Homo sapiens: one gene and its partner. The protein of the gene in region 1 purifies or fractionates together with the protein of each later gene. This does not show direct contact. Each region holds a gene or a part of one and is shown in the gene's direction. Other genes may lie near its edges.

Region 1 (4,459 bases):
TAGAGACGGGGTAGCTATGTTGCCCAGGCTGGTCTCCAACTCCTGACCTCAAGTGATCCTCCCGCCTCGGCCTCCAAAGCGCTGGGATTACAGGCGTGCGCAACCGCGCGGAGGCAATCTAGAAACTGCAGAGGGAGCACGGACCTGGGCACTGGGAAGAATAGGGCGTGGACTTGGAGTGTGACCGCGTTTGAATCTGGGTTGTGCCTGGGACACCCCACCTCCTGGGCCGTAGGTGGGGGGGGAGAGAGAGAGAGAGAGAGAGAGAGAGAGAGGATGTCGACCTTACATGGCTCCTAGCTCTCCGCGCTCTAGCCGAATGCCTGGTTCCTAGTGGGTGCTTGATACGTGGGAAATGTAGGGGGAGGGGGTGGCGGGGCATTGGGAATGTCCCGCAGAGTGGATTTCGGGAGAGTGGCGCTTTTCTCTAGAACTCTCTTCCGGTTACACCTGGAGTAAAAGCTTGACACTCTAGAAGGAAAACCCCAGATGAGCAGCTAGGACTGAGGGTTAGCGGTAGGCGGGAGCGGGGAGATAGTACAAGTACGCTTCCTAATGAGGCGGTGCCGCAAAATAACCAATTTTAATAAAGACTGCAGAGAAGAAAACCAGGTTCTGCTGGCGGAGTGCACAGGCTCCCAGCCGAGCGCCCAACAACCAGGTTCCGGGCCCACCCTGCCGCAGCCTCTTGGAAATCTCTAAGTTGGAATGTGTGCGTGCGCACCACGGGTCACTGCCCTCTTTGTGTGTGAATTTGAAGCGAAATCTGGGCGAGGCGGGGCCGTGCTACTAGCAATCGGACCCACAGTCGCGGTTCCAAGAAGCCCCGAAGCTTCCCCGGCTTCCCGCAGCACTGCTGGGAGGGCACACGGCGCCTCTGTCCCCACCCCAGAGCGTGGGGCGCGCGGAAAAAGGTCTGGTGACTGCCCTCCCCGCCGCCCCCCGGGAGCGTGCCCTCCCGCCGGACCCTGGGACTCCAGAGAAGCGCCGAGGGCGCGAGTACACTAAGATATACGACCTTCCCTGGGGACCGGGAAGGGCACAACCACCTCTTGCAACTCCGCCACTAAGACGCCTTGGGTCACCAGGCCCGGGGGAAAACTCGTCCCCGTCCCAGGCTCTCGATTCGGGCCGCAGCTCACGTCCCGCGCTCCTCCCTGCGCGCCGCTCTGCTCCTCCCTAGTCCCGCCTCCAGCTCCGCCCGGGCGCCCAGAGGGCAAATGAGGGGCGGCGGGGTGGCGGGTGGGGGGGAGACGCGGAATTTCCCAGCGCGGGGGCTCTGGCTTACCCTGCAACCGGGCAGTCTCTTTCTGTTTACGGAGAGAAAGGGGAAATGGAAAAGTCGGGGAGGCGGTGGCTGGCGTCCGCTGCGCCGCCCCTGGGCAGGCTCAGACGCCGTGAGTCAGGGGCAGAGCAGGGCGGTCTGAGCGTGCGGGCGACGCGGGTCTCACTCGTCCGCTCCGCTCTGGACTGCGCGCCACGCTCTGGGGTCCGGCGCCCTGGTTCCTGCTTCTGCCGCTGCCGCCGCCGGATCCCAGTGGCCCGGCGTGCTCGGCTCCCACAGGCCTGCAGCCAGCATCGCACCGAACCTTCGGGGGGCCGCGGCTGGAGCGCTCGGCCGGCGTGGGAGCGCCAAGGCCGCAGGTAATCCAGGGTTGGGGGTCTCCGGCGTGTCTTTCGGGTCGCGTCCCGCCTGGGTGCCCCGGGGATTCCCATGCAGAAATGGAGGGTGCCCCCAGCAGAGGGGAAAACTCTGGCGTGGGAAGAGGTGGGGGCGTGCCCACAGCTGCGCTCGCGGGTCGCCGGCTGCACCAGGCACAGCTGGAAAGCACCTTGCGCAAGGGTCTCACGGGGTGCAGACTCGCGACTCCTCCCCCTTCCTCCTCCTTCCCGTATCCGCAGCGCCAGGGCAGTGCTGGTCTGGGCAGTGCGCGGGGAAGCGGGGACCCGCTGTCACTGCGCCTCCCGCTGCCGACGCCGCCTGGACGGCCGCACTCTCCCTGCCCGAGACCCGGTGAGTGCAGCTCGGAGGCTGGAGGACCCGATCCTCCCAAATGCTGGGTGCTTTGATAATTTATAAGCCTTTTAGGCTCCCTTGACTTAGAGAACCAGGAGGAAAGGAGTGGGAGTGTGGGTTGGCGGAGCCCAGAGACTTGTGAATGGCTGGAACTAAATTCAAGTTTGTAACCCGGACTCTATCCCATGACTAAAGAGGTCATAGCAGAACACGAAGGCTGGGCTTTTGGTCTAAGAAAGAATACTAGGAGAAAAAAAAAGTTATTTTCACGGAAGTTGTTTTCGAGCGATAGTGCATGATCAGGACTCTGAAATTTTTCTAGCTCTGGGCGGAGAAGGACGCCTAGGGATTGTCTCCATAGTTAACAGGGGAAGGCCACCGGCTGCCTGTAAGAGAGAAACGTTGCGATGCTTGTCTATTTCACTTTTGGGAAGACAAGATTAAAGGCTGCTCTTGATAAAAAACAGGGACAGAAAGGCTCTTGCAGTTGCTTTACATACCTGTGGCCTGAGTCGTTTGTGCCAAGGAGAGTGTAATCCACTTCCAGCTGACGCCCCCAGCTCTCTGCGACGGATTGAGGTTTGTGTGCAGGACGTCTGGCATACGGCCCATGAGGACTTTGTCGTGTAAAGCAAATGGGAACGTTGAGGCATGTAGAGGTTTTGAAGCAGAGTGTCGGTCCTTCCTTCCATACGCCTGAAACGCATAATCCGGGGCTTTTTGAGAGCAAAAACATAGTCAGAAATGTGCCCTGAGGGAGAATGTACTATTTTGGCACACATATGTATATATGTATATATAATTTTTAAATTTTTTTTGAGAGGGGGTTTCACTCTTGTCGCCCAGGCTGGAGCGCAATGGCGCGATCTCGGCTCACTGCAACCTCCACCTCCCGGGTTCAAGCGATTCTCTTGCCTCAGCCTCCCGAGTAGCTGGGATTACAGGCGCCCGCCGCCACGCCCGGCTAATTTTTGTAGAGACAGGGTTTCACCATGTTGGCCAGGCTGGTCTTGAACTCCTGACCTCAGGTGATGCACCCTCCTTGGCCTCCCAAAGTGCTGAGATTACAGGCATGAGCCACTGTGCCCGGCCTAAAAAAATATTTTAAATGAGAAATAACACAAGTAATAGTCATTCTTTGTTAGGCAGAAGCATATGCTGTTATGCTGGCCATTTTCATTCACACTTGCCAGGAAACACTCACATTTTGTTTCTGTATATGGAGGCAGCCAAGAGTATTATGTTAATGTTTAGGAAGAGAATTTCCTCGTGATTTTATTGCTGATTTCTGAAATAATTCAGTGTAACTAATTTTGACTGTATTTGCACATCTCTCCAATTCCAAAAGCTGGCATAATTTTCTGTTTGGTTAGGAAGTAGGAATTTTATGAGGACTTTTATTGTAAACTGTGTCAAGGGAAAAATCATCTTATACTAAACGTCTTTATTGCCAAACTAGAATACCTTCACAATCTGAACTTTCTCTAGATGGGCACAGATCATGAATAACTCAGAAACCATTAGCATATTGTGTGCTTAATTAAGGCTGGAAAGTGCTGAGGCTTTTTGCAGGCGCAGTTAGCAGGCGAACTGGTCAGCAGGGTTTCTGGGGAACGTAGATTTGCGTGACAGGGGCCCTGTGTTGCTAAGGAATTACTGCAGGCACTGAGAAAAGTCTCAGCGTCAGACACTCCTCCACCTCCCGGGTCCTGCTTCCCTCCCTCTCCCCTTTCCAGGCAACTCACAGTTTAGGGGTGTGGTTGTGTGTGTTCAAGCTCTTGGGTTTTACATATAAATGCCTGAGACTTTTCTGCAGGGTTTAAAAACTAACATCTTGTCTTACAGCTCTTTTAGGATTTGTCTTTTAGAATCTCCAGTCCTCACAGGAAAACCCCCCAATTAAAAAAATAAAAGAATAAAGAATAAAAAGAATACCACTACTACTATAAAAAAAAAAAAAATCCTCTAAAATTTGTCTTCCCAGATCAGCAGAGTGAATTTGAACTGTGTGGACTTTTTTCCTCTTTCTTTCTTGAGTCATGTTAGTACTGAGAACTTTTTTTTTTTCTGTCAAATCATCTGTTTGATAAATAAGTCCAGGAGACTTGGATCCTTTCAACCCCTGAGGCCCTAAATTAGGCTGTTTTTTTTTTAACCTCTGTGTTTCCAGTAAATTCGACAAGCAGAAACTGCAACTAAACGGCTCAGTAAAACCGAAGTCAAATGTTCCTCCATTAATCTAAGAAGTTGCTCTCCTAACTCAGCAGACTCCAAGAACCTGAATCACAATCTCCCTCGAAGATGTACAAGATCTCAGGAGGGGAAGCTGCCCCCTCACTCTAGATTTCACGGTGGTGATAACAGCCATGAAAGCATTTCATAGGTTTCTGCCTTTTTTTTCTCTCTCTTTATGTCTTGTTTTAGATGCAATCTTCTTACCGC
Region 2 (3,811 bases), on another chromosome or scaffold:
TGGAGATGTGTTTTCTTACCTGTGTGTGTTTCTGCTGGCAGGAGAAACTTCTTAAGTCTCAGCGTAATCTCGTGGCCAAGATGAAGAAAGTCATGCATTTACAGGATGTAGAAGTGAAGAACGCCACACAGTGGAAGGTAATGGCAGAAGTGGTTGGATATTTCTTGCTCCTGAGGTCCTTTTGGTCTGGGACATTTCTTGCTTCTGAGGTCCTTTTGGTCATGGGGTTTTGCAGTTCACGTAGAGTCTTGGATGCCTCAGAACCTCTGTTTCCTCCATATCATGTGACTGAAAGAAGAGCTTTCTGGGTGTCAGTTCAGTTGTCAGGCCCCTTGTAGATACGGGGATAGGAGAGGAAGTACCTGTCCCTGCTGCTAGTGGCTTTGGGTGATAATGAGTTCCGCATACTTCATCCCCATGTCTCTACTTTAAGGTAGCACCCCTCTCCTTCCTACTTTTTCCTAAATATACTCCCTAGGTTAGAGTCGGTTTGGGCCCATGGCATTGTGGAAAGAAACAGATGAATGGATGCACACACACACGCACACACACACACACACACACACACCCTCACACTCCTAAAGATTTGGTAAAACTAAACGAGTTCTGAAGGCTAAACTAAGTAGTAGATGTGAAAGTTTGTTTTAGTTTAAAACTTGTCAGTAGTAGAGACTGAAATGTTAGGAAGAATGAATGAATACTATAATGACTAGACAGAGCTATCAAGTAGGTATAAATAAAGGAGTAATGGAAATTTTAGTGGGGGTGGGCAGGAGCTTTTCAAGAGGGTTTGATTAGGATTGACTGTGGATTACTGGGGAATTGTGTAAGGAATTTAGTAGCTGGGGTCAGGCAGAAAAAGGAGTGAGCAAATCTCATGTGGCCTTAGGATAAGATAAAGAGTCAGCGAATGAGAATCAGCACGGAGTTTTCAAAGCTGCACAACTTCCTGGTTGAAGAAGAGGACCTGTTTCTTCAGAGATTGAACAAAGAAGAAGAAGAGACGAAGAAGAAGCTGAATGAGAACACGTTAAAACTCAATCAAACTATCGCTTCATTGAAGAAGCTCATCTTAGAGGTGGGGGAGAAGAGCCAGGCTCCCACCCTGGAGCTGCTTCAGGTGAGACAGTTACGAGTGGGGGTGATCTCATCTTCACTAACTGAACTCTCTCTTGTCTTTAGAGCTGAATGTCCTTCCTGGTGAGTGGGTTTCATAGACATGTCTTATCTCTTGCTAGTTCTGTGCTGTCACATAACTAAAAAGCCAAAGATTCACCATTCAAAGGAAATTAATGTGAAATGTAGGTATGCTGAGCTCAGCTCATAGGAGATAAGTTGATTCACACAGTCTCATAGTTCATCTAGGATCTGAGACTTAGCACATATAAGATTTTTTTCATTCATCTTATGTGTACATTTATAATTATTAAACAATAAAACAAAGCAAGCATAAAACTCCCAAGTACATAACTGTTATCAACAATTAAGAGACACTTAACTTTCTCGCTTATTTTTAATCATTACAATCACAGCTTGATAAAACTTTGTTCTTATCCCCATATTTTGAGTGGTACTTTCATTTAAATAATTTCCAATGACTAGCAACCTTTAAAAGATTATAATTCTAACTTAGCACTTAAGTTTGGGTCTTTAGGCCAGTTTGTTATCAAAAGCCCCTCCTTTGAGTTAATCTTTACCTTTATATCCTCTGTAGGTAAAGTGTCCTTATAGCTTCTTTTAGTTTTTGGATAGGGTCCTACATTTGTGACTTTGCTTTTTCTTTTTGCTGAAATAATTCATGTTGAGTATCGGATGCCTCAGAACCTCTCTTTCCTCCATATCACGTGAATGAAGATGAAAAGATCTCTAAAAGGTGTTCTCAAGAACATTTTCTGTCTACCATTACTATTTTTTTTTCATAAGCAAGAGACAACATTCTGTTCTACTCTTAAGGAAGTCAGAAACCTGGACCCACCCAGTAGTTATTATCAATAAGAAATTGCTAGCTAGGTTTTATATGATAGATATAACCTAACAGTTAAAATTAAATGTAATGACTTCCAAGAATTATGTAAAAGTTTTACAACATGCTTAAGCAATGCAGTTGCAAGTACATATCCAAATATGTGTCATAAAAGAATCTCTGAAATAACACATTTAAAATACAGGCTTAACATCTAATTAGAATCTGAAACCTCGAAGATACATGTGAGCCAGCAGAATGTTTACAAAAAATTATATCAGCAAATGGAAATGCAAAGTTAGGGAAACGATTAAAAAAGATGAAACTGGGGCCGGGTGCAGTGGCTCACGCCTGTAATCCCAACACTTTGGGAGGTTGAGGTGGGTGGATCACCTGAGGTCAGGAGTTTGAGACCAGACTGGCCAACATGGTGAAACCCCGTCTCTACTAAAAATTAGCTGGGGATGGTGGCACATACCTGTAATCTCAGCTACTTGGGAGGCTGAGGCAGGAGAATCACTTGAACCCGGGAGACAGAGATTGCAGTGAGCCGAGATTGTGCCACTGCACTCCAGCCTGGGCGACAGAGCAAGACTCCATACCAAAAAACAAAACAAAACAAAACAAACAGATGAAACTAGAACATAGAATCTCAGAGCCTGAGAGAACTACTGTACTTATCTATCTACCTACCCATTTTTAAAATTGATTTCCTTTACTTTTACCCCATGACCCACTTCTAATGTACATCTTCCACATTTTACCTGTTTCTTTTTCCGGTAATGGCTACCTGCGTTGCCTCCAACACCATTACCACTACAAATAATGCTGCAGTGAAACCATTAATATCTGCTCTTTATTGTTTATCTTTATTTTTATTTTATTTAGGTTTTGAGACAGGGTCTTGCTTTGTTACCCAGACTGGAGTGCGGTGGTGTGCTCATAGCTCACTGCACCCTCAAGCTGCTGGGCTCAAGTAATTTTCCTGCCTTGATCTCCCAAAGTGTTCGGGGATTACAGGTGTGAGCCACCGCCCCCAGCTGTTTTTTTTTAAATTGGTCCTTGGGTTTCTTCTCTAGCTCTTTTCTCAACTTCTTGAGTTGGAATGCTTGGCTCCTTTATATTTACCCCTTTGTTTGCTGGTAAATTTAAGTTATACTTTTACCTTTATTGCTCTGTATTCCACAGATTTTGACAAATTGTTATATTTATTGTCATAATAAAATAAACATTAAAACACATTTTAAGGCCAGGTACAGTGGCTCACGTCTGTAATTCCAGCACTTTGGGAAACTGAGATGGGAGGATCTCTTGAGCTCAGGAGTTTGCACTAGCCTGGGCATCTTAGCAAGATCTTGTCTCTATTTAAAAAAAAAAAGTATGACACTCGTGGAGAAAAATGTATAAATCATAAGCTTGACAGATTATCACAAAGTGACCATTCATGTAACTACTATCCAAGTCAAAAAAATAGAACACACATAGCATCCTAGAAGCTTCCTCATGTCCCCAATCAGTACCTCTTCCCTTCTCCTCAAAGGGTAGCCTCCCTCTGGACTTCTCACACTCTAATTTTTTTTTACTTTTTTTTTTTGAGATGGAGTCTTGCTGTGTGGCCGAGGCTGGAGTGCAGTGGAGCGATCTTGGCTCACTGCAACCTCTGCCTCCCGGGTACAAGCTATTCTCTGGGCTCAGCCTCCCAAGTAGCTGGGATTACAGGCGTGTGCCACCACACCTGGCTAATTTTTCTATTTTTGGTAGAGACGGGGTTTTGCCATGTTGGCCAGGCTGGTCTTGAACTCCTGACCTCGAGTGATCCGCCTGCCTTGGCTTCGCAAAGTGCTGGGA

The links.
Region 2: the proteins of MAP3K8 (region 1) and TRIM4 purify together in Homo sapiens (affinity purification with western blotting, with the first as the bait; one study listed by BioGRID). This does not show direct contact.

Annotation. Positions count from the first base shown.
Region 1 is NC_000010.11:30,432,735-30,437,193, forward strand, and holds the start of MAP3K8 (mitogen-activated protein kinase kinase kinase 8), read left to right. Parts: upstream 1-1,449; 5' UTR 1,450-1,644; intron 1,645-1,902; exon of another isoform or gene 1,903-2,014; intron 2,015-3,838; exon of another isoform or gene 3,839-4,400; intron 4,401-4,441; 5' UTR 4,442-4,459.
Region 2 is NC_000007.14:99,905,891-99,909,701, reverse strand, and holds part of TRIM4 (E3 ubiquitin-protein ligase TRIM4), read left to right. Parts: intron 1-41; coding exon 42-137; intron 138-889; coding exon 890-1,120; intron 1,121-3,811. UniProt on the Homo sapiens protein: E3 ubiquitin-protein ligase. Mediates 'Lys-63'-linked polyubiquitination of the innate immune receptor RIGI, this linkage doesn't lead to proteasomal degradation but seems to enhance IFN induction.